4 linked regions of the Homo sapiens genome follow. The protein of the gene in region 1 purifies or fractionates together with the protein of each later gene. This does not show direct contact. Each region holds a gene or a part of one and is shown on either strand. Other genes may lie near its edges.

The links.
Region 2: the proteins of CNOT1 (region 1) and CAPZB purify together in Homo sapiens (affinity purification with mass spectrometry; 5 studies listed by BioGRID and IntAct, with this or other methods). This does not show direct contact.
Region 3: the proteins of CNOT1 (region 1) and TNKS1BP1 purify together in Homo sapiens (affinity purification with mass spectrometry; 5 studies listed by BioGRID and IntAct, with this or other methods). This does not show direct contact.
Region 4: the proteins of CNOT1 (region 1) and CNOT10 purify together in Homo sapiens (affinity purification with mass spectrometry; 4 studies listed by BioGRID and IntAct, with this or other methods). This does not show direct contact.

The regions. Positions count from the first base shown.
Region 1 is NC_000016.10:58,521,189-58,529,498, forward strand, and holds part of CNOT1 (CCR4-NOT transcription complex subunit 1), read right to left. Parts: intron 7,461-8,310; coding exon 7,287-7,460; intron 6,918-7,286; exon of another isoform or gene 6,735-6,917; intron 4,951-6,734; coding exon 4,801-4,950; intron 4,172-4,800; coding exon 3,991-4,171; intron 2,655-3,990; exon of another isoform or gene 2,315-2,654; coding exon 2,182-2,314; exon of another isoform or gene 130-2,181; coding exon 1-129.
Region 2 is NC_000001.11:19,338,275-19,342,938, forward strand, and holds the end of CAPZB (F-actin-capping protein subunit beta), read right to left. Parts: intron 4,591-4,664; coding exon of another isoform or gene 4,488-4,590; exon of another isoform or gene 4,478-4,487; intron 1,344-4,477; coding exon 1,256-1,343; 3' UTR 501-1,255; downstream 1-500. UniProt on the Homo sapiens protein: F-actin-capping proteins bind in a Ca(2+)-independent manner to the fast growing ends of actin filaments (barbed end) thereby blocking the exchange of subunits at these ends.
Region 3 is NC_000011.10:57,307,433-57,315,742, forward strand, and holds part of TNKS1BP1 (182 kDa tankyrase-1-binding protein), read right to left. Parts: intron 6,458-8,310; coding exon 5,102-6,457; intron 4,087-5,101; exon of another isoform or gene 3,932-4,086; coding exon of another isoform or gene 3,806-3,931; intron 3,125-3,805; coding exon 963-3,124; intron 1-962.
Region 4 is NC_000003.12:32,757,398-32,765,707, reverse strand, and holds part of CNOT10 (CCR4-NOT transcription complex subunit 10), read right to left. Parts: intron 6,251-8,310; coding exon 6,137-6,250; intron 2,976-6,136; coding exon 2,845-2,975; intron 1,254-2,844; coding exon 1,218-1,253; intron 1,027-1,217; coding exon 899-1,026; intron 659-898; exon of another isoform or gene 531-658; intron 1-530. UniProt on the Homo sapiens protein: Component of the CCR4-NOT complex which is one of the major cellular mRNA deadenylases and is linked to various cellular processes including bulk mRNA degradation, miRNA-mediated repression, translational repression during translational initiation and general transcription regulation.

The sequences.
Region 1 (8,310 bases):
ATTTCTGGGGCACAGTGTACAAATTCATGGTTCCAGAACTTAAACGCTGGGTTTTTAATCAGCTCAATGAAGGTAATAAGAAGACCCCAAGGATGTGGCCTATTTACAATCAACCGTTCCAAGAGAACTCTGGAAAAAGGGAGAAAGAGCTAGTTAATGTATAGAAGCATACAAATTCATGATTATTCTTCCATTACTTTTTTTCTAACTTCTCCCTGACTATTGAACCACATGCAAAAGTTTTCACCTTTAGTAAAGACAGGTGGATTAATATACTCCAAATAGCACAGGTTGGAATACCTGGGTTTGAACCCTGCTCTTAGCCGTAGAAGACTAAGTATTTATATAAAGTGCAGATAATGGTATCTACCTCACAGCTGTTCAGAATAAGGGGTGATGGGGGAGAGGAAGCCACATAAAGCCCAGAGTACATGGCACACAAAGTTAGTACAAAAAGTAGTAATTTCCAGAATGAGCTCCCAGGCCGGGCACAGTGGCTCATGCCTGTAATCCAGCACTTTGGGAGGCCGAGGCAGGTGGATCACCTGAGGTCAGGAGTTCGAGACCAGCCTGGCCAACATGGTGAAACCCCATCTCTGCTACAAATATAAAAATTAGTCAGACATGGTGGCCACATGCCTGTAATCCCAGCAGTCGGACGCTGAGGCAGGAGAATCGCTTGAACCCAGTAGGTGGAGGTTGTGGTGAGCCGAGATGGTGCCACTGCACTCCAGCCTGGGAGACAGAGTGAGACCCTGTCTCAAATAAACAGATAAATTAAATAAATAAATAAGCTCACTCTCAATAAAAAGGAAACAGAAAATAAGAATTAAGTATTCTAACACTGCAGGCTGGGCACAGTGACTCACGCCTGTAATCCCAGCACTCTGGGAGGCCAAGACGGGTGGATCACGAGGTCGGGAGTTCAAGACCAGCCTGGCCAAGATGGTGAAACCCCGTCTCTACTAAAAATACAAAAAATTAGCCGGACGTGGTGGCAGGTGCCTGTAATCCCAGCTACTCAGGAGGCGACAAAGCGAGACTGTCTCAAAAAAAAAAAAAAAAAAAAAAAAAAAAAAGCTAACATTGCTAGTTCACATGTAAATTGGTAAAATTTTTCCGAATGCCAGTAAGCATTGGCTTAACTTTATATCCTTTCACGTACCAACTGTACATGAAGCATAACAAAGATTACAAGTCCAAGGAGACTTACTGCAGCTTTATATAAACAAAATGGATCATCATCATCTAAGCATCCAATAAGATATTAAATTTTAGTACACAAATCAAAGGAATACCATATTTAGCACCATAGGTGACTAATTAGGCAAATGAGCAAGTTTTAAGAGTCTGGCCCAATTTTTAAAGTGTGTGTGTGTGTGTATCACAATCTCTCTAATGCTATATGTAGTCTAGGCAATCTGGCAACAGATTCCTAACTATTGTTAGGAAAATGCAAGTATGATCCTGTTATTGCTACTGCTTTCAACCCAGAGGTAATGAGGAAAAGTCCAAGTTCCTTAACATAGACTTCATAGGCCTGCATGATTTAGGACTGGTTATCACCACCACCTCAGAGAAACTCCTGACCTTTAATCAAAATGTGCCTTGTGGTAAACTACTTTTCATTTAAGCCATGATTGCGATTTATAATTCCCTATCTTGTGATAAATGTCCATCAGAATGAGTATTAAGAGGGCAGGAACCATCCATTTTGCTCACAATTGTATCCCACATTTAACACATTATTGGACATGTAAAAGATTTTCACTGAAGGCCGGGTGCAGTGGCTCACGCCTGTAATCCCAGCACTTTGGGAGGCTGAGGCGGGTGGATCACTTGAGGTCAGGAGTTCAAGATCAGCCTGGCCAACATGGTGAAACCCCGTCTCTACTAAAATACAAAAATTAGCTGGGCGTGGTGGCAGGCGCCTGTAATCCCAGCTACTTGAGAGGCTAAGGCACGAGAATCGCTTGAACCTGGGAGGCGGAGGTTGCAGTGAGCCAAGATGGCGCCACTGTACTGCAGACTGAGTGACAGAGCAACACTCCGTCTCAAAAAAACAAAAAAAAAACCAACCAAACGGATTTTCACTGAACACTGAAAGCATAAAGAGGAAAAAAAAAAGATGAAAGGGAGGAGATCCTTTTGAAGCATTTAAAAAATAAGCTGCTCGCTTACCTTGTGATCTGTTCTTGGATGGCTTCCGTATTGGCCTCTGCAAAAAGGTACAGCATGGTGCAACTGAAGTAGTGAGTGTGGCTATTTGGGTACCGGAGCTGATTTGCAATTGCATTCAAAAAGAGATAGCGACCTAGAAATTAAGAAACCTTGACTTAGGACTTAGTCTGAAAGGCCAACATGGGAAGACAGTTCTAACTGGCTAGGGTTTGGGTTTCTGACAGAGGCTTTCAAATTAATCTTTGGTTTAAAGCAGTGGTTCTTGGGACCCCAAAGAGTTCTCATTTCTGTGCGTTTTATTTCAGAATTTTCCACATTAGAAATTAGATTTTAAAAATATTCATTTTTAAAAACAGACCCACTATGTGCTAATGTAAGAAACATGAACTATTTTCTGGTGACACTCATCACTAAGTCTTTCTACATTTTGCAGATCTCTAAGTCTTGCTTAATAAAAGACAGCTGGATTCTCATTTCTGCTTCTGTGTTCAACTTGTTACAGTATATTTCATGTAACCTCTGAGAAATTCAACTGTACACTCATGACAGAATAGACCCAAAAATGTAAATGTTGTTTTATGATGAAAACAGTTTTGGGCCGGGCACGGTGGCTCACGCCTGTAATCCCAGCACTTTGGGAGGCTGAGGCAAGTGGATCACTTGAGGTCAGGGGTTCAAGACCAGCGTGGCCAACATGGTGAAACCCCATCTCTACTAAAAATACATAAAAATTAGCTGGGCATGGTGGCGTGTGCCTGTAATCCCAGCTCCTCGGGAGGCTGAGGCAGGAGAATCGCTTGAACCCCTGAGGCGGAAGTTATGGTGAGCCGATATTGCGCCACTGCCTTCTAGCCTGGGTGTGAGAGCAAGACTCTATCGCAAAAAAAAAAAAAAAAAAAAGTTTTGACCTCACAGCCCTCCTAAAAAGGTCTTGACACCCTAAGGGTACCCAGCCCACATTTTGATTAGTCTAAACTACACTGGAATAAGTATTATCTTAATTGGGTTTGGTTGTTTGCCTCTGCTTGACATTATTCGTGTTTGTGAGTCTGTCACAGTGACACGTTTCTCTAAAGGCTGCCGTCCTTTTATTGCCGAGCTCTTGGACGTGATGGTATTCAATTTTGTTATATCTTGAATTTAAGCTGTCTTAAATCCATCCCACATATAGGCATGCAGCATATATGCAACATCAATTCATCTCTCAAGAATCAATAGCAAAGTTAAAGAGTAGTGTCCCCCTAAAATATATGTATGCAAAACTGGACAGGACTGTACAACTAGTTAGCACCTAACTGGGGTCTCTATTTTATAAGATAAATATAGAGGACCAAATGAAATGTAGCTCAAGCAGAAAAGCTGCAACCTGCAACAGGAGTTATACTGTGAGCTTTTTGCAGAACAGGAGAGTCCTATTCATTAATCTTTATACATGAACATTTAACAAGATGCCTGCCAAACACGCACCAATAAAAATGCTTATATAAGGCAGCCTAACAAAACAATGTAACAAGAGGCTATGTTTAAAGGGACTTTAAGTTTATTTTCACACTAAAAAACTTCAGTCACATACACCAAAACTGATACTGCACGATTCTGGATAATTCTTTCCTTTATGCTTTTTTGTATTTCCTGCACTGAGCAGATAATGTCCAATTAAAGATAAAATAATCAGCTAGACCTGTGAATAAATATACTGACAGAACATTCCTTCACTATTGTGGCTTGAAGCATTTTTACATTTTTGTGATCAGATTGTAGCAAAAAGCACAGAGAACTCTACTCTGAAAACTGGCAGGCTTCACTCACCCTCAGTGTCCAAGTCCACAGCCAAATTCTGGAAGATATCCATGTGTGCTGAGTGAGTGATGGTGCTCATTGAAGGTGTGCTGCCCTTGTTGTGGATGTGCGCAATGGCCTGAGTCCCGACATAGAGCACCAGTGCATTGATGAGCTGGAGGTTGTAGCGATTCCCAGGTTCATTGGATACCTTAAAATGAGCAAAACAGAACTCCTTATGCTTACTCCTGCAGAGGACCAATTCTAGCACCAGTATTTCTAAACCCTTCTTACACCTTCATGGAAAGGCCAAACATTTATTGTGATTCACTTGCTTGAATTTGTGAGGTTATTTAACAAACACACAGATGCTCCAAAGGTGGTTGTATCAATAAGAGAAATGTGATTTCCCTCAGGAAGCCGAAGCTCAAGGCACAGCTCTAAAGTAAAGTTTATAAAATCAAAATATGCACTGTGCCAATTAAAGATTTGGAGAGAAAGTTGTAGTTGCATGGCATATACAGACTGTAAATATATAACTTTCCAAAATATCCTATAGAGAAATGTAAATCAGCATCCAGGTATTCAGAAAAATCCTAGGAGTACCAACAGCTAATGACTGTCTGTGGTCTACTCTTCTAGTGCTGTCTTGTCCAAAGCTGTAGCAAAATATCACTGATTAAATGAACTAGTAAAATACGTAAATCCAGTTAATCAACCTCACCCAATTGATGGAAATGACAATAAAAGACTAACTCCCAAATGGACCACACACAGGACCATACATAGAAAGTGCTTTATATGGAAGACGTAGATGAGTTTTAAGCCAAACCAATTAACCTGTAGGTTGCTGCGCAGATCAGACAGGAAAGTGACTGGTGATCGAGTTTTAAGATAGGAATCCAAATCCTTTTTGAACTGAGGTGGCATTACTCCAGTGAAATTGGTGAGAATCCGGGGAGCAATGTTAATTTCACTCAACATGTCCACCTGCCACAGATAAAATGCAAGAATCACAAGCAGAATCATTTTTATTAGTAAATTACATCTATGCTTAAGTGGTGGGACTGTTTTTCTAAAACTATATACACTATAAATGCCTTGAAGAGCACAGCTGCCACATTTTATTAATCAGTCTTTCTTTCTTTAGAAGAATCTTGGTTCAAAATGATAAAAATTTCCCACTCTATAATGTATTTCCTTCCCAGAGGCAAGATACCTTTTGGGCAAAGGTCTAATTTGCACAACTAACTGATTTTTCTTGGACTTCGGTTTCAAAATAATAATCCGGAATAAGATTCCTCACTCACCAAGAGTCTTTGAAAAGAAGCCCCAGCAAGACCAGACATCACACTTACTCCTTAAAAAAAAAAAAAAAAAAAAAAAAAATTGAAGCCGGGCGCAGTGGCTCACGCCTGTAAACCCAGCACTTTGGGAGGCCGAGGTAGGCGGATCACCTGAGGTTGGGAGTTCAAGACCACCCTGACCAACATGGAGAAACCCCATCTCTACTAAAAATATAAAATTAGCTGGGTGTGGTGCCTGTAATCCCAGCTGCTCGGGAGTCTGAGGCAGGAGAATCGCCTGAACCCAGGAGGCAGAGGTTGCAGTGAGCCACAGCTCGCGCCATTGCGCTCCAGCCTGGGCAACAAGAACGAAACTCCGTCTCAAAAAAAAAAAAAAAAAAAAAAATGCATGTGTCAGAAAGAGTAGAGACTACATCTAAACTATAGCTGGGCACTTCTAGTGGTGTGCACCTCTAGTCACAGCTACTCTGGAGGCTGAGGCAGGAGGACGGCTTGAGCACAGGAGCCTGAGGCTGAAGTGCACTATGTTCACACCTGTGAATAGTCACTGCCCTTCAGCCTGGGCAAAACAACGAGACCCCTGTCTCTTAAACAAACTATAGTAGCCATGTCAGGGTGGTGAGATTTTAAGTGGTCCTCTCTCTCCTTTATTCCAACAACTTACAAAAAAATACAGTGGGTTCTCCATACCCTTAGGTTCCATATCTAATTAACCTCAAATCGAAAATATGGGGGGTGAAGGTAGAGGTAGATGATGGGGTCAATAAAAAATAATACAACAATAAAGGCCGGGTGCAGTGGCTCATGCCTGTAATCCCAGCATTTTGGGAGGCCAAGGCAGGCAGATCGTGAGGTCAGGAGTTTGAGACCAGCCTGGCCAACTAGTGAAACCCCGTCACTACTAAAAATACAAAAAAAAAAATTAGCCAGGCATGGTGGCGGGCACCTGTAGTACCAGCTACTTGGGAGGCTGAGGCAGGAGAATCACTGGACCCCAGGAGGCGGAAGTTGCAGTGAGCTGAGATTGCGCCACTGCACTCCAGCCTGGGTGACAGAGTGAGACTCTGTCTCAAAAATAAATAAATAAATACAAATAAATAATAATACAACAATAAAAAACACAAATTTTAAAAAGTTATTAATATAGTTTAAAATAGTTATTTCCATAATAGCATTACACTACATTAGGTATCATAAGCACTACAGATGTCATTTAAGGGGATATGCAAAGGTTATATGCCACTTTACATACAGGACTTAAGCATACTTAAAATTTGGTGTCCCAGTGGGTCCTAGAACCAATCCTCCAAGAATAGCAAGGGACCAAGGAACAACTGCACAAGTGCACAGACACAAAACTGTGAAATATGGAGACTATGGCAGGGCGTGGTGGCTCACACCTGTAATCCCAGCACTTTGGGAGGCCGAAGCAGGCAGATTACTTGAGGTGAGGAGCTCAAAACCAACCTGGCTGACATGGCGAAACCCCATCTCCACTAAACACATAATTAGCCAGGTGTGGTGGCGAGTGCCTGTAATCCCAGCTACTTGGGAGGCTGAGGCGGGAGAATAGCTTGAACCAGCGAAGGGGAGGTTGCAGTAAGCCGAGACTGCACCACTGCACTCCAGCCTGGGTCACAGAGTAAGACTCTGCCTCAAAAAAAGAAAAAGATTACAAAGGTCTGTTTGTTCTGCAATTCTTTGCCATGTGGGGCACACCCAGCAAATGACTGCCCCAACACCTAAGCTGTGGTTCTGTAAATAGAGCTAAATTTAATATCAAAATTAATATGAAAACTAGCAACTAGAAAAATGCTGTGAACCAATATTCACCAGCAACAGCAATAGCAACAATATCATACCTTCTATCAGGCTTAATAACATTATTTCCTTTAAAGAGTACCCTTAACTAATAGTGTGCGTGTTATGTTGGGTAGGAAAGTGCTGAACAGTCTACTTATCAGAGAAAGGACTGAAATATTAAGACATAAGTTTTCCTTTAACTAGTTGGAACCTTACCTTTAGATTAGGAGTGAATGGGTCGGGGAGCCTCATGTTTCTTGGAAAGGCACTCAGGATCAAATTTCTTAACTGGATACAATTAGGTGGGATCACATCACAGAACCCATAATGGTAATCACAAAGGAACTCTGGGAAATCATGCAAAAGAACCAGCAGCACTCTTAAAGTGCCCTATTTTTAAAAAACAAGAAAAATATTTCCACACTAAGGAAAATGGAGTAACATTTTCCTATTGTAACTTAAGCCCCCCACCCCCCTCAAAAGAATGAAGTATACTTTAGTAACATTTCTTAAAAAGTTTTAGGCTTTAATTAACATTATCACAGATGATTTATCAAATATTTCCATTTAGGTATCATGAAAAACTAGGCATCAAGAGTTTACAGGCTGAAATGAATATGCTAGAAGAGGAGACTGGACAAAAAATAAAAATACAATGATGTAAGCGTCTATCTTCAGAAGCTAAAAAAAAAAAAGAACTAATGAAAACCAAAGAAAGTAGAGTAAAAGCATATAATAAATTTTTTAAAGTACTGAAAAGGGAGAAAATCAGGGCCCAAGTTAGTTATTAGAAAAAATAAATTGATAAACCCTAACCAAGGCTGACAGAGAAAACACAAAAATTATTAATGTCAGGAATGACATTACAGATCCTACAGTCATAAAAAATAGTTTCAGAACATTAAACGACTTTATGCTCATAAATCTGACAATTCAGATCAGTGGAAATAGAACACCTTAGCACACTGAGACACGCAAAGATTTCCTACACAAGTCACAAAAAGCAACTTTTAATATAAGTTTAAAAATCTGCAATTTTGACTACAATAAATTTTAAAGCTTCTGATCCTCAAAAGACACCTCCCCCTTCCTTTAAGGGAGTAAAAGGGCAAGCTGTGAGAGTGGGAGATGTTTGAATATATAGTAACAACAAAGGGCTTGTATTTAAAACATATAAAGAATTATTTAATAAATAAAAATACAAACAAGAGCCAAAAGACTGGAAGAGGAGCATCACAAA
Region 2 (4,664 bases), on another chromosome or scaffold:
AAAAAGATGTTGCATCAGACCCAGGGACCTCAAACACATGGGCTGGCCAGGTTGTGGAGCCCGCTGATTGGCCACGGACAGATGGGGGGATGGTCTCGGCAGGGACTTTGAGATCTGCTTCAGATCTTCCCTGGGGCAGTTTGGAGGGTAGAAGGCAGACTCTGTGGCTCTGTGCAGCCTTGGCTGAGTTACTGCAACTGAACCTCGGCTGCCTCACATTTGTACTAGGCACAGTGGGAAGGCGGCGGGAGGTGCGTGCTGCGGCGCCAGAACAGTGTTTGCTGGTGCTTCTGCCCTCCAACGGCAGAGGGCGGAAAGGGACAGGGACTCTGCACCTCATCACATACCTGGTGTTTTCAGGGCGGCGGGGCTGGGGACGGGACACTTCCTTGCTGCCGTGAGCGGGGCCCACACGCGTCCCAGCTTGGAGCCAGCGCACGGCCACGGCCACACGCGCTCGGAAAGCGAGGCCGGCGAGAAGGAACACAGAAGGCCAGCGCTAACTGCGCCCCAGTTTCTTTTTATTGATTTCTTTTCTTTTCTTTTTTTAAGTATGGAGGCTCAAGTATAAGATGTAGATTTTTTTCTTAAGCTTTACAAAAAAACAAAATAAAACAAAAACCTCCTTTTGCATTCCATAGAAATTGACAGAAAAGCACCTGGCCGGAAGAGCGGAACGGTCGGCGGCACCCCCCCCAGCCCCCACCCCGCGGCCTCCGTGGGACGGGAGAGTCTGCGCAGGACGGCACCGAGGGCCACCTCTGCTCCCAGAGCTGTCCCCTGTCCCCACGACCCCCAACCCCAAGCAACTCCCAAACACACACGGAATAAGATTTCCAGTTTTTCTTCTCTCTTTCACACACCACAGTTAGTTCATAAAATTTTTTTGTTTTACATTTTTTACACCAATGTACCAAAAAGGTGGGAGGGAAGGGAGGCTGGCAGACAGTGGATTTTATGCCTATAAATGGGGGGACAGGGAGGAAGACGGGGGGCCCGGGTGAACAAAAACCACACGGTCTCTATGGAAATGTGGAGAGAACTGAGAGCGAGGTGTGGCAGAAGCAGGCTCGGAGCCGGAGGAGGGTGGCTATCGGCTTTATTCTCAGGGAGAGATGGCGCTGTGCGGTCAATGATGCAGCTGTTATGTGACCTGTCGGGGAGGGAAGGGACGAGGGAAGGGAGCAGAAAACGAGTTTTCTAAGAAAGGAATCTAACGAGTGCACGGCGTGTCTGGTTAGCATGAAACAGAGGTTTAGCATTGCTGCTTTCTCTTCAAAGCCTCCACCAGGTCATTCTTCAGAGCTTCTTGTTTTGATTTGTCTGCAAAAGTCTGCACAGACCTGCAAGGGAGGAAAGGCGTTATCAGCAGATTGAACAGGGACTGGTGAGGCGGTGGAGGCCTGGGGGCCACCATGCCAGTGCCTGGCTGATTTGCTGCATGGACCCGCTTCCTGGGGTGAGGCTCTGGGTCACTGGGCTGGGCATCTGCCCCTCTCAGAAAGGGGCAAAGGGGTACATGGCCGAGACCTGCACCCTCTGCACCTTGCCAGGCCCTGTGGGGGTGGCATATGGCTTACATGGACAGGTGCTCATCTCTGCCCCTGGCCACCGGTGACCCGGCCATAGTCCCTAGAACCCTAAGTTCACTCCTCTGTGTGTAGGTCCCTATGTCACCCTAAGCCACAAGGTGGCTTCTGGGCTTCCAAACACAATGGAACAAAGCCCCTCTGCTTCAGAACAGCTACCCTGGGTTGCTGGCTGGGGACTCAGGCCAGGGGCTAAGAGGGGAGGACTCCGGGGCCATGCGGGTTCCTCTATAAAAGCTTCTCCCTTGCCCAGGCCCTGCCCAGCAGAAGAGCCTCATTCCTCATCCCACAAGTGCAAGGTGCAGCGTTATCCCACCCTTGGGAGTGGGTAAGAACCAGTGTCTCTGCGTGTCTGAGCACACTGTGTTTATGGCCCACGCAGCAGGTGCTTTCAGGCCTCTGCTGTGAGGCACCATCCGCTGTTAACTTGGCCCAGAAAACCCCTCAGCCCGGATTGCAAAGGGCGGCACAGGACAGCCAAGTGCCCCTGGGATCCCTGCTGTCAAATTCTGGATTTGTGGGGAAACGTTCAGGGCGACCGCATTCACGTATGTGTGGGGACGCTCATCAACAAAGCCAGAAACAATGAAGGCTTATGGAGATTTCACAGTTTACAAAACGCCTTTCACATATATTATCTCATTTAATTTTCACGGGCATCCTGGGGAAGTCTCAACTATCAACCCGGCCGGATGTGGTGGCTCAAGCCTGTAATCCCAGCACTTTGGGAGGCCAAGGCAGGAGGATCATTTAAGGCCAGGAGTTCAAGACCAGCCTGGGCAACATAGTGAGACCCCATCTCTACAACGACAACAACAAAAAGCGAAGTCAAGGCTTAAAAAAGAAAAAAGCTATCAACCCAATTTACAGATGAGGAAACTGAGGCTCAGAGGAATGCCCCCCTAGCAATTCTTTAATCATTTTGTCAAATTTACCCAACATATTGGTTAGGCAAAGACTTCCTAAATGTAGGTTTTATAACAGTTTAGAAGCAGTGGAAAGAGTGGGTAGAGGGCTGCTCAAGAAGAGTGCTACGGAGAGTGCACTCAGCCGGACTCTCACGTTTGATTCACACCAGCCATGGGAAGGAAGAATCAGAAAAATCAATCCCCAGAAGCAAAAATGGGCAAATGGAAGTGAAGCAGGGCCCAGGAGAAGCAACAGCACCCAGACTGAGTTCTGGCTACCGAATCCCTACAAGTCACAGGAAGAGCCCTCAAAATACTCAGCAGGTGCCATAAGACAAGACCTGGAAGCAAGCTGCATACAACTGAAAAAACTCCCAGGAGAAACGCAGACATTTGGTTCATGCTGGGGAAATACACGTTTCTGAGTATCTTCCCAGGACTGTCCCTGGCTCTGCGGCGGCCAAAGGCATCAGCCCCCACGGCCCCCAGGCTCCAAATCTCAGCCGATTCCCCAGGGGCTTCTTGCCAAGCTCACAGCGGGAGGTCAACATGGCCAGCGGGAGATGCGGCGGGCAAAGCAGCAGCGCACAGGACCTCTAGCCTGGGTGGTCACTGGCTCTTCTGGGAAGGAAGAGCCAAGCCCGCCAGGTCTTGGCTGGATCACACGAAGGAGAAAGTTCCAGAGCTAGAATCATGTTAGACACAGGAAGTTAGAAGTGAAATGGTGGAAGGCGGAAGGAGCAGGGGGCTTATTTAAGGGACAATGCTTGGGAAGGTCACGGCCAAGCAACCTCGAATCAGCGCTTGGAGACAGTGCTCGACTCTGTGGGAGGGAGGAGTCATCTTGAGCAGACCTGGCTGCCAGGGTTTCTACGCCAGGACGCCCCCAGTGGGCGGCCAGGGAACTGCACCATCACGGTGTATCTTAAAAAGAGTTTTTTCTCAATGCCATGATGGAAATGCCTGATGGCCACACTGTGAGGCTGACCCGAGTCGTGGGCCTTAAGTTGGCACACACAGACCAGACTGGTGCACTTAAGTCCCACGGCCTCGGAAAAGCAGCTCCACCTGGTTTTCTAAGTGCCTGACCCCACCTCCACCTTGGAAAGTCTGCTGCACCCCTTCTGGGGTGGGCCTTCAGTGCGCAGCCCCTGGACCTGGGCTCTGCAGCCCCAGTTGGCAGGGTTCCAAATGCCTTCTTTTTACAAACAAGTTTCCCTCCTACTCTCCAGGGATGCTGCCTCCTTCCCTACATCTGGATCTGTCACAAGCTCAAGTCATGGTTCTTGGCCATTACCAACAAGCAAGACTATTTTCCTTTCCATTAGCGAAACCTGTTTAAAGGAACAGCTGCAGCTCGTTAGGGGCGGAAGGTTATGCTGGTTGTGGCCGAGTCGGCACTGGGCGTCCAGGCAGCTCCAGCAGAGCATCTGGGCCAGCCAGGGTGGAGTCCAGCCCTGACTCTGCCCTCCAACCCCAGAGACTCAGAGATCAGAGAGTGAGGTCACCCCTTCCAAGCCAGCTAGCCCTGGACAGGCAATGTGCCGCTGAGCAGCGGGGAGGCTTATGTGGCTTCTGGGATCCCTGCACCAGCATCAGAGGCTCCTCTGAAGCATGGGGGGGTGGACGGCAGGCAGATCCCTGCCCTGGGGACAGTCAGGCCGGTGCACACAAGTGGCTGCTGCTGGAGAGGCAGCATCCGTCCCTTGGCCTGGGCTTCTTCAGAAGCAAAAGCCAAAAAATCAGCCGTCTTCCCCACACCCAGCCTCCACCCAGAGTGGAAAGCACACACACGTGATAGGTGCCGTGTTACATGGGGCCGAGGCTACACGGGAATGTGGCTGTGCACCGACCGGGAGCACACGTGGGGGTTAGTGGTGGTTTAAATGGCCGCGGAGCAGCAGCCGGACCGGCAGGGTCTCGGCGGGTTGGTGAGTCCTGTTTTAGTGGGGAGGGTCTCGCGGCTCTCAGGCAGGGTACCTGGATCGGCTTAATTATCAGGCTGGATGTAGATCTGGCGCTGGGTCAGCACTTGAGAGAGCTCCCTCTGCAACTGCTTAAACTTTTGGTTGTCAGGGATAGCATCAATAGATCTACAGAGAGTGTTCAAGATGAGTGGAGTGGGAGGGAAGAGAACGACGAGAAGCCAGGAACGCAGGGGGCCACA
Region 3 (8,310 bases), on another chromosome or scaffold:
GCCCATCTTCCTCTCTCCCTTCTCCTCCTCCATCCCAAATGCCTCTCCAGAGTCCCCAAGACCACCATGATATGCTCTAGCCCCTTCCTGCTCCTCTCCTCCCACCACCAACCCCTTCCACTTATAAAAGCCCCTGCCCCACACTTCCCTTGCCTTCCCCACATACCCAGTGAGAAGCTCCCACTGTGGGGCTGGAAAAGGTAACATTTTCTGCTCACTAAAGGGAATAAAAGCGAATCTCAATGGATGGAAATGTTAACAAAACGGATGCAATGCCTTTTTAGCACGTTTCTCAGCTGCAAAACCATCTCAGCTGGTTTTAAAACATCCATGAAACAGACTGTGCTTGCCTTGCAAAGCCTTTGGAAAGTTCTTTCAGCAAATTTGCACAGAGGCCAAGGTCATGGGGCCAGGTCCCCATACCCTTCAGGTTCTTGAACTTGCTATTCCAGGCTTCAAGACAGGACAGGCAAGAAGCACCAAGTACCTAACCTCTTTGAGAACCCGTGGGTTCCACTGTCCACTCCACTCCTGGCTGTGGTGGCCCCAGCCAAGAAGACACGGAATTCTCTGCCCTATACCTATGAAACCACCTGTGGCTTCAGGGCTGAGAGGCCTGGGGAACGGCTACTGTGTACAAGAGTAGAACCCATCAGAAACCATCCAAGCTATGACATGCACCATTTCCCCCGTCACAGTCACAATTCCAAATCACCAAGCTCAAACATGGGTTGCAAAAGTAACACATTAGTCATCCTTCAAAAAAGGAACTCACCTGTATGTGTATCATATTTCAATTATTTTTAAGTAGAACTAAAAATTCTTAGTCCAAAATGTCTCAATTACCCAAACACTAAAAGTCCTCAGGAAAAACTGTTTCTTCCCTCCTCAGAAAGGTTCCGATTTCTTGGACAGCCTTCACATGTTCCCTCCCACACTTGGGATGGGGCTCCGTTCATTACCTTGCTCCGAAGCTGAGGGCTTCTCCTGTCTCCATTCCAGGGTCTGCAGGGTGTGGCTCCAAGGAAGACGAGGAGTAATCTTCACCCTGGGTCTCTGGCCCACTTGTCTCACCAACCCCCAGCTCCCTGGCCTCCAAGGGGTCTCTGGCCTCCAGGCCAGGAGACAAGCTGCCATTGTGCCTCAGGCCGGGCTCTGGGCACTGGCTCACCCCGCCCACCCCATGCTCCCTGGCTTCACTTGGAGCCCCAAAGAGCTCCACATTCTGGGGCGCCAAGTCCTGGGTCCAGTCCATCTGCCCCACTCCACATCCCCGTAGCCCCTGAGAACCTCCAGAGTCTGGGTCACAGGTCACCTCCAAATCCCTCAGGCCCAGATTGTTACCCCAGTCCATCTGGCCCACCCCAAGCTCTTTGGACTCTCCAGGACTGCAGACTGCCCCTGGGGCCATGTTTCTCAGCCCAAGGTCAGGTGTCCAGTCTGCCTGTCCAACTCCACGCTCCCTTGATTTAAGGAACTCTCCGGCCTCCACACCTGACCAGTCAGTCTGCCCCACGCCACTCTCTCTGGCCTGGCTGTGGCCTCCTCCCTCCCCGACCTCAGCCAAATCTTTGCTCTTCACATTAACATCAGAAGTCCAGTCCTTCTCCCCAACTCCGATTCCCCCCGGCTCTTCAGACCCTCCACTTTCCAAACAGCCGGTCAGGTTCATGTCTCTCAAGCTCAGGCCACCTGACCAGCCCATCTGTCCCACGGCACTCTCCCTGGCCTCGCTCGAGCCCCCAGAACCCACACAGCTGGACACTTCCAAGTTCCTGAGACCCAGCTGGTCAGTCCAGTCCACCGAGCCAGCTGTGGTCTTCCCAGGAGGCACAAAGTGACCACCTTCCATCTTGCTAGAAGGGCTAAAGCCAGCACCACTCACTCTGTCGTTGCCAATGATGCCAAACTGATAGCTCCTCTCACTGGCCTCGATGCAGAAGTCCCGGCTCCAGTCCTGCTGCCCTGGGCTAAATGCTGCCTCTCGCTGGGGGCCAACACTGAGGCTAAACTCACCGACCCAGCCTCGCTTTCCCATCTCCCCATCTTCCAGGTCAGCACTGCCAGGGCCCTGAGCCCCTGCCTGCTGTCTCTCCTGATGCCCTCCCACCTCCTGGCTAGCATCACTGTTTTGCCAGCTGCTCTGGTCTCTCTGCCCGAGTGCCCCATCCGGCACGTGGGCAGTGCTAGGACTGAACAAGCCCCCGGATCCTCTCTCTCCTGGCCGGCCAGCATCCCTGCTGCCCTCTCCAAGGCTGTCTTCCACACTTGGAATCTTCTTCTCAAATTCCTCATCCTGTTGCTGGGCTTCCTCGGGGCTGAACCCAGAGCTCAGGGGTCTCGTTCCAAAGCTTCTGTCCTGGGCGTCAAGGGTCCTGGAGCTGCCACCACTGCTGTAGTCCCTTATCCAAGCGCTCTTCCCAAACTCCTGTTCCTGTGGCTCCGCAGCCCGGCTGCCATAGGTGCCGAGTGACACATCTCTCTTCTGAAACTCCCAGTCCTGCTCATCGGCATCCTGGCTGCTGTACCTACCATGGTGGTCCCTCTTCCCCAAATCTTGGCCCTGCTCGTTGGCATCTTGGCTGGCATAAGCACCCAGAGAATCTCTCTTCCCAAATTCCCAGTCCCCAAGGCTTACATCTCGACTACTGTAGGTACCCAGTGAATCTCTCTTTCCGAATTCCTGGTCCTGGAGTTCTGCATCCCGGCTGGAGTAAGTGCCCTGGGAATCCCTCTTTCTGAACTCCCAGTCCTGAACATCTGCCTCCTGGCTCCGCTGAGTGCCAAGCTGGGCTGGCTTTCCAACTACCCGGTCCTGGGCTGTGAGCACCCCTGGGGCAGACACTTTACTCTGGTCTTGGCTGCTGCTGGCCTCCATCTCCTCCTGGCCGATGCCACACCTGCTGGCCCACTCCCTGGTGCTCCCTTCCCCTGCTCCTTGCCCATACTTGCTGGTCCAGTCCCTCTCTCCGAGACCTGGGTCTCCTCTAGGGCTTGCACCCCCAAGGCCATAGTCCTGAGAAGCACCTTGACACCAGCTGGAAGGACTGAAACTGCTGGGCTGTGGGTCTCCTGTGATCCCAAATTCACTCTGCAGATCTTTCTGGGACCAGCCAAGGAGTCCCTGGGAATAAGAAAAAAAAACAGACAAAGAAACAACGATTAGATTCCATCAGGGTGGGAGTCAATCCAGCAGAGTCAGCGCTGCCTAGTGCCTGAAAGCCCCACTTTGGCAACAGAAAGCTGTGTGACCTTGAGCAAATCACTTAACCACTCTGGGTCTCAGCGTCCTCATCCTTAAACGAGGATAATTCCTATTGCATGGGGCTGGTGTGAGAGGATTAAATGAGATCATTTAGACCAAGCACTCAGCATAGTGCTTGGCATGCAGTGGGCACTCAATCGATGGTCCCATGGTCATGTTTACAACTCTTGGGCAATACTTGGCTAACAGCCAGGAGAGGAGTGGTCTTCACACAGGAATGGCAGGCAGTGCACTTTCCTTTTGATTAGGAGAGGTCAAGATTCAAAGCCTCTCTGCGACTTCCCTTGCAAGGCAAGGTTCCAACACCAATGACAGCTTTTCCAGCCCGTCCTCCCCCATGCCCCATCTGACCCCCATCCTCCTATAAGTACCCAGGCCCTTCTTCCCCAGCCAAAGTGCCGTCTGCTCAATCTTCCCCAGGAAGACCTCTCAGCCCTCACCCTGGCCCAGGAAAGACAAGAGGGGCAGCCTCTGGCACAGGGGAAAATCCCAGCCAGGGCTTCTTGCACCCCACCCCCCACCTCACGCTCCCTGACTCACCCTTGTGGGCGGGAGAGCCCTGGGCTCAGGGCTTCGGAGCCGGCCAGCCTCATCCCTCAGCGCAGCGTTGGCCAGCAGCCGCTCCAGGATAGACATGCTGGCCTCCCCATCCCCAGGCTGGGCCATGGCCCCCCGCCCCCAACCCGCCTTGGGGCTGCTGGGTGCGGCCAGCCGGGCGCAGGGATAGAGCTGGGCTGCTACCCGCGCTGGGACCTGTCCGACGGCTCTGGCGCTGGCTCTCCCTCACCCTGGCCCTGCTCCCTCCGGAGCAGCTGCAGCTTGGGCAGCCCCGCCCAGGAGCCAGTTGAGTCACCCACATCCCGGGACAGACACACCTACTACAGGAGTCAGCTTAACCCCTTCCTGCTCCTCCTTCTCCCCGCCCCGCAGCCCCCAGAGGCCCCCTGGCTCCTCCTTTCCTGCAGCCCCGCCCCTTGCAGCCCAGGCCCGGCTTGAGAAATAAATTTCGAAAGCCACCTGGCCCCCGGCCCTTAAATTCAGAGGCAGCCTGGTAGGAGAAAGGGCACTGGGCCGGGAAACGGCGCTGGCCCGGGCCCAGCCACCAACTTGCTGGATAACTGCACAAGGCTAACCTCCTCTGAGGCCCAGCTGCCTGTCTACAAAGCAGGTCTGGAGCTCAATGTTAATAACGTTTGTAAAAGCCAACACTTCTTAAGCACTTAGGATGAGCCAGGCACTATTCTTAGCACTTTAGACATTACAGCTCATTGAACCCTTGCCAACACCCTTGGAGGTAGAACTCATCTTGTTATCCACATTTTACAGATGTGGAAACTGAGGCAGAGGGCAGAAAAGTCACTCTTTTAAGGTCACACCTGGGCAAAGGAAAGCAGAGCCAGGAGATGAACCCAGGAGCCCACGCTCTAAATGGCTACACTATTTTGCCTTGAACGATATTCCCATAATGAGAGACTGAATACTCAGCACCTGCCACGCACTGTGCCGAGAGCTTTCCACCTCGATTTACCCACAATATAACTCTAAGAGGCCAATGCTACTATCAGGAAAGCACTCTGAAGCCCAGCAGTTAAGGTACGTTCTTCCCAAGACCAATCAGCTAGCGATTGCTGGAGCTGGGATAGAGCCTCACACGAAACCCCACACACACACCGTCCTGTGTGGCTCTGCAGAGCTACAATCTGCAGGTCCACAGCTGCCTTGCTCACTACCACAGCCCAAGCTCTCGACATGTAAAATCCATGTTCAAAGAATGAAGCCCACCCAAGCCCTGGCCTCTGTCCCCAGAAGTCCCATTCTCCCTATGCCCATTCTCACCTCAGAGCAGGTACTTGGGGACTGTGTGTCCTTCAGCTCAGCTCCAGCTCCCCGCCTTGCACCGCCACCACTGGGTGGTGGTGAAGCCAGGAGGTCGTCCAGCCAGCGGGAGCTGCTTTCAGGGCCTGGAGGCTCGGGGGATGCCCTACACAAGTCTTGAGCCTCTGTCCTGGCTTGGGTGGTCTCAGCCCGGGCTAGGGTCACGGCCTCCTCCTCAACAGGCAGTGCCTGTCCAGGCTCAGGGGCATCAGCAAAGAGAACACAGGGCTGGTCAGGGGCTGCTGGCTGCTCCTGCCCCAGGACTGGCTCCAGGATGGGCAAGGCTGCCTCCCTGGTAGCCAGGGGGAGAGGGGACTCCTGTCCAGCCAAGGGCTCCTGCGACTCGTATCTCTCCTCTGCCTGCTGCAAAGGTAATCCAGGTGTGCCCTCAGTTGTAGGCAGGGGCTCAAGGGGAACAGCTGGGAATTGAGGTTGACTCTCCCCATCGCCCTTCTGGGTGAGGGACATGCTTGGATCATCCCCCTGCACCCAGGAACTTCCTGACCCACTTGGAGCTGACCCAGCCCCTTGCCCCTGCTGAGACACTCCTTCTTCCCTGCTGGAAACGGCCAAGTTGCCAGCCTCAGCAGCCTCGGCGGCCTCACTGGCTTCAGTGATGGGGGAGGGAGGCGGGGAGTCCAGCCGCCACACGCCCAGACCCGAGGGCCTCGTGGGGAAGGTCCATTCGAAGGACTGTGATAAGCTCCAGTTGGACTCTGCCCCAAAGGGACGATCCAGGGCCAACTGGCTCCCCTGGCCTTGGGGCAGGGCAGCCAGCGAGCCCCCCAGCTTCTCCTGGTCCTGACTGGGTGACTGGAGCACACCTTCAGAGAATCGGCGCTGAACCAGGCTGGTGGGGCGGAGGTGTGCGTCACCCTTGGCCTCCTCCTCCCCGCCAGATGGAAACGTCCGAGTGAGATCCAGCAACTCACCCACCTCGATCAGGGGCCGGGGTGAGGTGGCAGGGGGCTGATCCAGGCTATGGGGCTCCAAGACCTCAGGGGGTGGGCTGCTGGGTCTGGGGGCCTCTGGAGCCCCCTCGGCAGGGAGCCCCGGGCTGGGGGTGTGGCGGGAGCCCTCGTCAGGCAGGGCTGCACTTGGAGCTGATGGAGTCACAGCGGGGCAGGGAGAAGCCTGGGAAGCTTCAGGAGTCTGGGCTTCCAGAAGCTGTGAGTGGCAGGGAGAACTCTTATCAGGCGGGTGAAGATGGGGAGAGCCAGGGCCTGAGCCTGAGGCTTCTGCGGGGAGGCCTGGGCTGGCAGGGCCTCCATTCTCTGAGGAGGGGGCTGGACTTGAGGGAATCCAGGGCTTGGAAATCTGCAAGAGAAAGAAAGGTCAAGATCCGTCACTCACCTCTCAGCGGGGCGGGGAGGGTCCCCTCCGACCCCACACAGACCCCAGGTCAGCTTCTCCCAGGCTGGGAGGAGGCAACTGGAACCCGAGGGGGTCCTCTTGGGATAGCTGGGAGGGGCCCCACAGACGACTCAAGGCAGGACTTCTCACAGAGCCCCCTTTAGACCTTCTTCCCCAGAATGCGCCTATCCTTATTCACAAAGCATAATTCCTTTCGTCTCAGGTGGTTGGAACCCCTCACCCACTCAACCCAAAGCTCATGTGAGGATCTCCTCAGAGGCCACAGTTCGGGGTCCATAACACCTGCTTTATAAAGGGAAAAGGAACATTGTGAATCTGGCTCTTGAAGCACCTCAGCATGTGGGAGTCGTGAGGGGAGAGAGGGTTTCGCGTCCAAGCAGGATTCGAGGTGCAGTGCAGCTACAGAGCAGCTCGGGGGAGTGGCTACAGCGTGCAGGGGGTGCCCCTCATGGCACAGAAGGTGCCAAGGAAGCAGGAAGGCTATGGGACCCAGGCAAAAGGCACTGGGGGGTGTGACAGCGCCTGGCTTGAGCCGTCCCAGCACTGCCTCTTACCAGCATGTGCCCTCCCTCACATATGGCAGACACTTGGTCTCTCTGAGCCTCAGCTTCCCCATCTGTACATTAGGGCTGGTGGCAACAATGCTCATCTCCCAGTTAGGTGAGGGTGAAGGGAAATGTGTGCACTGGCCCCTCGGCATAGGACTCATGGGATGATGGCGGCAGAGAGTGGGGAGGACGTGGAGAGAAGAGGGGGACAAACAAGGCACCAAGCACCTGGCACTCCACCTGTCCCCAGACAATGAAGTGACTCTGGCTCCATCTGACCTTTGCCCTCTGCAGAGGTCACACTTCCCTGGCCGCCCTCTCCCATGTCGTTAATTCTCCCACATCATCACCTACTAGGCCTGGGCAAAATAAAGGGTCCTGCTTGCTTCTCAAGGTCCCTTCTGTTCCCTCCATGCTCACTCCCCTCTGCAACGTTCTAATGTCAAAGCTCGTGCCCTTAAACTACAGCACCCACAATTCTTTCTTGTTATTGACCCTTACGCACCCATCATTCCTTGAAAACCATAACCGCTGCATCACTGCAACCCTCTCCATCATTGTTGTGATAGCTTACAGTCATCTCCATAGCCAGATGCGACCCTTCCAGCCTCTGGTTCGTTGACCTCCTCTTCCTCAGTGACTGTGCGACCCATCCTCTCAAGGTCACACCCTAGACCTCATCCTTACCAGTGGCTGCAACCTCTGCATCATCTCAATCCCAAGTATCCCACTTGCCCACCCCCACCGCCTATCTGACCGGCTCACTCTATTTCCCCAACGCCCTTATTTTCAGCCCCTCTCATAGCACAGCCCCTTAACCCTAATTCTTTCTCATTGTCCCCCACTCCCCTCATACCCTCACCTCTCTTCTTATCACCATTAACGTCACTTTTTACTCAACACTCAACTCCCTCATCTGCTTCATCATACTGTTTAACCTGTTTAAATACAGCTCTCCAATACAGCTGGGCCAATCCTAGCCCAGCACCTGAGTAGCTGCATGTGGCTGGATAAAAACACACAATCGTGACAGCTGGTCTCACTCCAGATTCACTGCTGACCTCAAGCCGGCCCTAGAGCTGCCCAGAATCCCACGGCACTCCCCCTGCCATTCACTCCATGACTCTCCCAGGCAATGTTTTAGCATCTTCTCCCGTCAGACCTCCACACCTCCCCCAATCCTCTCTCAGCTGATGGCCTTGCTTCCTGTTCCCTGAGAACACAGAGGCCACCAGCAGAGAACCCCCG
Region 4 (8,310 bases), on another chromosome or scaffold:
GAATTTTAATAATTAAAACTGTCAACTTACTTCTTTTGTCTTTTTTTTTTGGGGGGACAGGGTCTCACTCCAGTTGCCCAGGCTGGAGTGCAGTGGCATGATCTTGGCTGACTACAGCCTCAACCTCCCAGGCTCAGGTAATCCTCCTACCTCTGTCTCCTAAGTATCTGGGACTACAGGAATGCACCACCATGCCTGGCTAATTTTTGGTATTTTTAGTAGAGACAGGGTCTCATTATGTTGCCCAGGCTGGTCTCAAACCCCTGGACTCAAGTGATCTGCCTGTCTCAGCCTCCCAGAGTGTGGGATTACAGATGTGAGCCACTGTGCCCGGCCCCAAGTTGCTTTTTATTCTGCTGATTTGAAATTTAAACATCTTTTTTTTTTTTTGAGACGGAGTCTCGCTCTGTTGCCCAGGCTGGAGTACAGTGGCACAATCTTGGCTCACTGCAACCTCCGCCTCCCGGATTCAAGCGATTCTCCTGCTTCAGCCTCCCGAGTAGCTGGGACTACAGGTGCGTGCCACCAACCTGGCTAATTTTTGTATTTTTAGTAGAGATGGGGTTTCACCATATTGGCCAGGCTGGTCTCAAACTCCTGACCTCATGATCCGCCTGCCTCGGCCTCCCAAAGTGCTGGGAGGCATGAGCCACTGTGCCTGGCAAAAAAAAATTTTTTTTAAAATAAAATCATCAAGAAGAACTTTCCTTTAAGTGTCTAGGTTCATTTACAATGCTGATTAGTTGTTTACCTTGCAAGAATATTTTTATATCTGGGAAAGTGATATTCCAATATTTAACAAACTGATCAGATGCTTCAAACAAAGTAACAAAAAATATAAACCTCAAACTTGTGTTGGCTGCTTTACAAGGTTCAGTTCCTCCCACTCTGGACTCACCTGGTGGAGACACTTTCGGGCTTTGTCATATTCGCTCCTCAGGCAGTAAGCGCTGCCAAGGTTGAACAGCATCACAGTCCTGGCAGAGTTGACGGAACTGGGGTAGCACTGAGGGGCCCGCTTACCAGCTGGGGAAAAAGAGTGTAGACACTGGTGAAGAGGCCGTGCCAACAGCAAGGAAGCAACCCAATCTATCGCCTTGAGGAGCCACTTGGCACAGCAGTATTCCTCAGGCAGAAAAACGAACACAGAAGATTTAGAATCTAAATTTTTGGGATGCAGGCCAGGCTACTTAAGTATCACAAAACTTCTTACTTACAGGATTCCATTGCTTCATTTTCACCTTTGTCTGATCCTACAAAAACACGAAAATAAATCTGAGGGGCAGAACAACAGAGCATATTTTCTTTCTTTTCTCCTCGGGCTCAGAAGGTAGAGGGCATATTTTCTTTTCTTTTCTTTTTTTTTTTTTTGAGATGGAGCCTCGCTCTGTTGCCCAGGCTGGAGTGCAGGGGCATGATCTCGGCTCACTGCAACCTCCGCCTCCTGGATTCAAGCGATTCTCCTGCCTCAGCCTCCTGAGTAGCTGGGATTACAGGCATGTGCCACCATCCCTGGCTAGTTTTTGTATTTTTAGTAGAGACGGGGTTTCACCATGTTGGTCAGGCTGGTTTTTTTTTTGGAGATGGAGTTTTGCTCTTGTTGCCGCCCAGGCTGGAGTGCAATGGCACGACTCACTGCAACCTCCGCCTCTTGAGTTCAAGTGATTCTCTGGCCTCAGCCTCCTGAGTAGCTGGGATTACAGGGGCATACCACCATGCCTGGCTAATTTTGTATTTTTAGTAGAGACAGGGTTTCACCATGTTGGTCAGGCTGGTCTTGAACTCCTGACCTTAGGTGATCCACCCACCACAGCCTCCCAAAGTGCTGGGATTACAGGTGTGAGCCACTGTGGCCAGCTGAGAGCATATTTTCTAAAAACCTAACTTTCTTTATGAAATGGAAATTTAATATAAAGCAATTTATTTACTTTTCATGTAGTGGAGATTCCATTAAAAAATGCCAGAATGCTACCACCCACCACCATCTCAAACCTGAGCACTAGTCTTGAGTAAAATGAATGTCACATAGCTTTAATTATTTAATTTTTTTTTTTTCTTCAGACAGAGTCTTGCTCTGTCACCCAGGCTGGAGTGCAGTGGCGTGATCTTGGCTCACTGCAACCTCCACCTCTCAGGTGCAAGCGATTCTCCTGTCTCAGCCTCCTGAGTAGGTGAGATTACAGGCTTGCACCACCACGCCCTACTAATTTTGTATTTTTGGTAGAGACGGGGTTTCACTATGTTGGCCAGGCTGGTCTTGAACTCCTGACCTCAGGTGATCCACCTGCCTCGGCCTCCCAAAGTGTTGGGATTACAGGTGTGAGCCACCGCACCCGACAATTATTTAGAAATTTAGCAATGACTTAAAACAAACTTTTTTTTCTTTCCTTATTTTTAAAATAGAGACAGGGTCTCACCAGGTTGCCCAGGCTGGTCTTGAACTCTTGGGCTCAAGTGACCCTCCTGCTACAGCCTCCCAAAGTGCTGGGATTACAGGCGTGAGCCACCACGCCTGGACTAAAACTGACTCTTGAATGCAATATTTTTACTCCCCTATGGATTTTAGAATCACTCCAAAGGAAAACAAATAAATAGTATCAGAACCAAAATTAACCATTCTAACAGTACCAGCCTTTCAAAAGTGAGAATTTAGATGATGTGATCATTAACTCTCAGGTCTACTTAGCAAACAACTGCTACAAAGTAAGTACAGACAAAAATGTGGAAAGCCAACCTAAAACTTTCTTCTCATTACCACCATGCCTAAATTTCCACACATCCTGAATTATGACAGGAGGGAAATGGAAACAGTGACCAGTTCTGATCAAAGATGTCCTCATTAACCTTGGTCCTGCTCATTTGAAGAGATCCCTAAGGAGACATCAGTGACATTCTCCGGGTTCAAGTGAGTAATGGCATCAGATATTCTGTCGAGAGAGATGAGGGCTTCTGCAGCATATAAATGTCCCAAAAACCTAAAATGAAAAAACAGATTCCAAACTGAAAAGTACAACGTCACAAAAATACCCAATGTAAAATAATGCTGGGTATATTATGTTATTATACATTGGATATAGGTCTCATATTTCATGTCCTTAAATTGAAATCTAAATTTATTTAGGTAAAACGAATCAACTGCCTGGGTGTAGTGGCTCATGCCTTTAATCTCAACACTTCAAGAAGCCTAGGTGGGTGGACTGCTGAGTCCAGGAGTTTGAGAACAGCGTGGGCAACATGGCAAAACCCTGTCTCTACAAAAAAAATACAAAAATTAGCTGGGCGTGGTGGCATACACCTGTAGTCTCAGCTACTCAGGAGGCTGAGGTGGGAGAATCACTTAAGCATGGGAGACTGAGGCTGCAGTGAGCAGTGATCATGCCACTGCACCTCAGCCTGAATGACAGAGTGAGACGCCATCTCAAAAAAAATAAAAATAAAAATTAAGATCGATCTCCTGATCTCGTGATCCGCCCGTCTTGGCCTCCCAAAGTGTTGGTATTACAGGCGTGAGCCACCATGCCCAGCTTTTTTTTTTTTTTTTAACTGGGGACCTTTTGATCTGCTCAAAATCTTAATGACTTTCTACACAAGAACAACACCACCACAAACTAAACTTTTATAGTTTTAAAACTCTCCAGGTTGAGCATGGTGGCTCATGCCTGTAATCCCAGCACTTTGGGAGGCCAAGATGGCAGATCACCTGAGGTCGGGAGTTCGAGACCAGCCTGACCAACATGGAGAAACCCCATCTCTACTAAAAATACAAAATTAGCCGGGCGTGGTGGTGCATGCCTGTAATCCCAGCTACTTGGGAGGCTGAGGCAGGAGAATCGCTTGAACCCGGGAGATGGAAGCTGTGATGAGCCGAGATCACGCCATTGCACTCCAGCCTGGGCAATAAGAGCAAATACAAAAAGTAGCCAGGTGCGGTGGCTCATGCCTGTGAAACTCCGTTTCAAAAAAAGAAAAAAAAAAAAAAAAGAAATTAGTAGGGCATAGTGGCGTGCACCTGTAATCCCAGCTACGCAGGAGGCTGAGGCAGGAGAATCCCTTGAACTGGGGAGGCAGAGGTTGCAGTGAGCTGAGATCATGCCACTGCACTCCAGCCTGGGCAACAGAGTGAAACTGTCTCAGAAAAAGAAAAAAAATTAGCCGGGTGTGGTGGTGGGCTCCTGTAATCCCAGCTACTCGGGAGGCTGAGGCAGGAGAATCGCCTGAACCCAGACAGTGGAGGTTGCAGTGAGTTGAGATTGTGCTACTGCACTCTAGTGTGGGTGACCCAGACAGACTCAGTCACACACAAACACACAAAGTCCAGTTCTCTCATAATGGCCGTATACACCACAATCTGAACACCAGCATCAGCTGCAATTCCCAACATTGGCATTTTGAGTTGGGCAATGATAAGGACGGAAGGTACTTTAGAGGCAACCCAAATGCCTTGAACTGAAAATTAGGATCTTCCCCATCTCCAGGCCTGAATATTGGACAAGATTTTCTTGCAGAAGAGCAGGAGCTCCCTTATATTTGAATTGTGACAAAGTCTCTTATATAGTTGAATGATTTATTACTTTTTTTTGAGATGGAGTCTCACTCTGTCACCCAGTTTGGAATGCAGTGGTACAATCTTGGCTCACTGCAGCTTCTGCCTCCCAGGCTCAAGCAATTCTCGTGCCTCAGCCTCCCGAGTAGCTGGGATTACAGGAGTGTGCCCCCATGCCCGGCTAATTTTCATATTTTCAGTAGAGATGGGGTTTCACCATATTGGCAGGGCTGGTCTCCAACTCCTGACCTCAAATGATTTGCCCAGGTAGGCCTCCCAAAGTGCTGGGATTACAGGTGTGAGCCACAGCGCCTGGCCTTAATTACTTAAAAAAAAAACAAAAACACTAGGTATGTTTGGGGATCACTAAAAAGCCAAAGAGTAAGTAGTTATATTTTGGCATTTGTAAGTATACACCTATACGATGAATGAAAGAACTGTTCTAATGTTGTGCAGAATACTCGTGGCTTTTGATAAAATTTCCAGGATCAGCACCATACAAAAATTCAAGCTGTATTTTATTTTTATTTTTTGAGAGGGAGTCTTGCTGTGTCACTCCGCCTGGAGTGCAATGGTGCAACCGTGGCTCACCGCAACGTCCGCCCCCCAGGCTCAAGTGATTCTCCTGTTTCAACTTCCCGAGTAGCTGGAATTATGGATGCCTGCCACCATGCCTGGCTAATTTTTGTATTTTTAGTAGAGATGGGGTTTTACCACGTTGGCTGGGCTGGTCTCAGACTCCCGACCTCAAATGATCTGCCTACCTCAGCCTCCCAAAGTGCTGGGATTACAGGCATGAGCCACCACACCTGGCCTGTATTTTACTCAATTTTGGTAAAAGAAAAGATAATGTGCTTTGGAAAATTTTAGAATGACAATGATATTAATGAAGAAGTATTTGCAGTTTGACTAAAACTAGCTGATTCTGGAATGATACAGTAGCTTGGAAAGATTTTTCAAATTCTTGTCTATTTTTTTTTTTTTTGAGACAGAGTCTTGCTCTGTAGCCTAGACTGGAGTGCAGTGGTGCAGAGATCTCACTGCAACCTCTGACTCCTGGGTTCAAGCGATTCTCCTGCCTCAGCCTCCTGAGTAGCTGGGATTACAGGTGCCCGCCACTACGCCCAGCTAATTTTTTGTATTTTTAGTAGAGGCAGGGTTTCACCATGTTGGCCAGGCTGGTCTTGAACTCCTGACCTCGTGATTTGCCTGCCTCGGCCTCCCAAAGTGCTGGGATTACAGGCGTGAGCCACCGTGCCTGGTCCCTCAAAGTAGATTTATCACATTGACCACACTCCTTTTTTTGTAGGTCTTCTCTCTGAGGACTTGACTTATTTGGAGAATTAAAGTGCTGCAGTGAAGCCTAGAAGTGGACACTAGAGTCCGAAGTTTTTGTCTCCTAACGCTCAGTACAGCACAAGTGAAAACATTTTCACTGCCGAGGCATGGGTTAAAAAACGTTCTTTTAAACAGTTGCTTTCCTTACAAATATATATTCCACTGGAGGAGTCAAAAGAAGCAACATAAACCACAAACCAAGGAGAAACCTCAAAACTAAAGAAACCAGGGACACACAGGGCAAGTCACACTTACTTAAGAGATCCTGACAGCTTGGGCTGCTGAAGAAGTTTATCTGCATGATTCAAAGCCATGAGGTTATCACCCAAAGCCAGAGCCACGTAGGCACTGCAAGCAAGTATGGAGCACCTATAACACAAAAGGGAAGGGGCCGAAAATCTCATTTTAAACATTGATAATGGTTATATTTGCTAAATAGGAAGAAATGCCCTTTAGCTGTGACAATCTGGACACCAGGAAAGAGGAGAGGAAGCCACGGTACTAATGGTAAGAATTAGATTGATGTATAAAACAATTCTGAAACACAGTTTGGCTATTTACATAAGTCATCTTTAGCTTTCATCCAATTGACCCACATCCCCAACAAAATAACCAATGGATTACAATACATAGCCTGTATGTATGTATGTATGTATATATGTATAGATAAATACACACACACACACACACACACACTATATATATATAGCCTAATGAGAACTAACTTCCATAGAAGTTTGCTTTTAATAACCTAGGAATAAAGCTATAGAATGAGATCTTATTCTTTCTACATATATTTGTGATATGCTAAGAAATAATTAACTTACTAAAGCATTCATTTACTTTAAATGTTCTTTTCTCAACCAATTAAGTCTACAGTTCTTGCTAAACCATAGTATCAAGAGTAACTAAAAAGTTTTATTCACACAGTTACTATTCTTCTAAAGGAATACTGAAGGAAAAAAAACAGGTTAAACAAACATATGTGAAGACAACGTTTAAGTTACATTGATTTCGCTAAGTTGGATTGGAAATCTAAGTTTCTATAATATTTGGTTTTCTACTTCACAGACAGCTCATTTAAAACAAGTCTGGTTAAAGACTTAATACTAATAGATCACTTGAATGTTAAACAACTGCTCCACAAAGCAATCTTAAAATAAACCCTTGTCAAATAGAAATGAAGTCTGAATGGCTAACCACAAATGACCTCACTCAGATACAGGGTTTTGAGTTATGTTTACAAATTACAATACACATATGTATCATTAAGTGCATTCAGGTTGTAATTTTAGTCTAAGGAAGAATGTAACCAGTATATCACCACAGAGTTTTGAAATGTTCTGAAATCCTCTGACTAGAAATGGCTCTTCCTATAAAAAGCACAGCTGGGCAAATTCAAAAGTATTCTGTTTCCTCTTCACTTGCTAACTTTTGGTTCCTAGAATCTTAGAAAACTACCCTAGAATTTGGTTCCTAGAATCTTAGAAAGGCAGCCCCTCAACTCTTAACAACACAGAAAAGTAGAGTGGTCCTTGAGAAGCATAACGAAATTGAGGTTTATGCCTTATACTACCATGGGAGGGCTGAAAGACTGTCTAGTGTGGTTCCTTGTTTAACTGATGTGGAAACAGAGACTCAAAGTGAGTAAACATAATCTTTAGCTTAGTGTGTGATTAGTTAGGTCTAATATTTGACATTGTAGACTCCCAATCCGCTGTTCTTCCCATCCAATCACATTGCTTCTTTATTAACTCACAAGACCACTTACAAAAAACACAACAGAAAAGATTCTTGTACATTATAATTTTCTAAGTTCTAGGCATACACAACATAGGTATTCTAACTTGTCTTTTTAAACAGGTAGAAAAAGTTTAATCCAAACATAAGTTTATATTTTGTCCCTGAGTATGTAATTTTAAATCTGACCCTTATTACAGAGGATAGTAATTTGAGAGCCAGCAAGTAGTGCCACTTTCAAAGGAATTTTCCTGGCAAGCCTACTATCAATATTTCTGGCTCTTCAACAGCTGGCTTTACCAGCAAGGTTGTCCCATGGCCACAGTCCCTACAATGAACCCTCCCCATGAAGGAAGACTCAGGGACCAGAGGCAGGAGGCTAGTTATCTCTCATCTTCAGAAGAATGTTAGTAGTTAGGTCTGTGTGGCAAGACTGGTGACTTAATTTCTCCTTTTGGCTTATTTGTATTTTTAATTTTAAAATGGCAATGACATTCATTCATTCAAGAAGTATACTGAGTAACTACAACATATCAGATATGTACTACTTATGAACAAAAAAAGACTATTAAAGGTCCGGTCTCCGGAGGCTCAAGAAGACCATTAGTGGCTGGGTGCGGTGGCTCATGCCTGTAATCCCAGCACTTTGGGAGGCTGAGACAGGCTGATCACCTGAGGTTGGGAGTTCG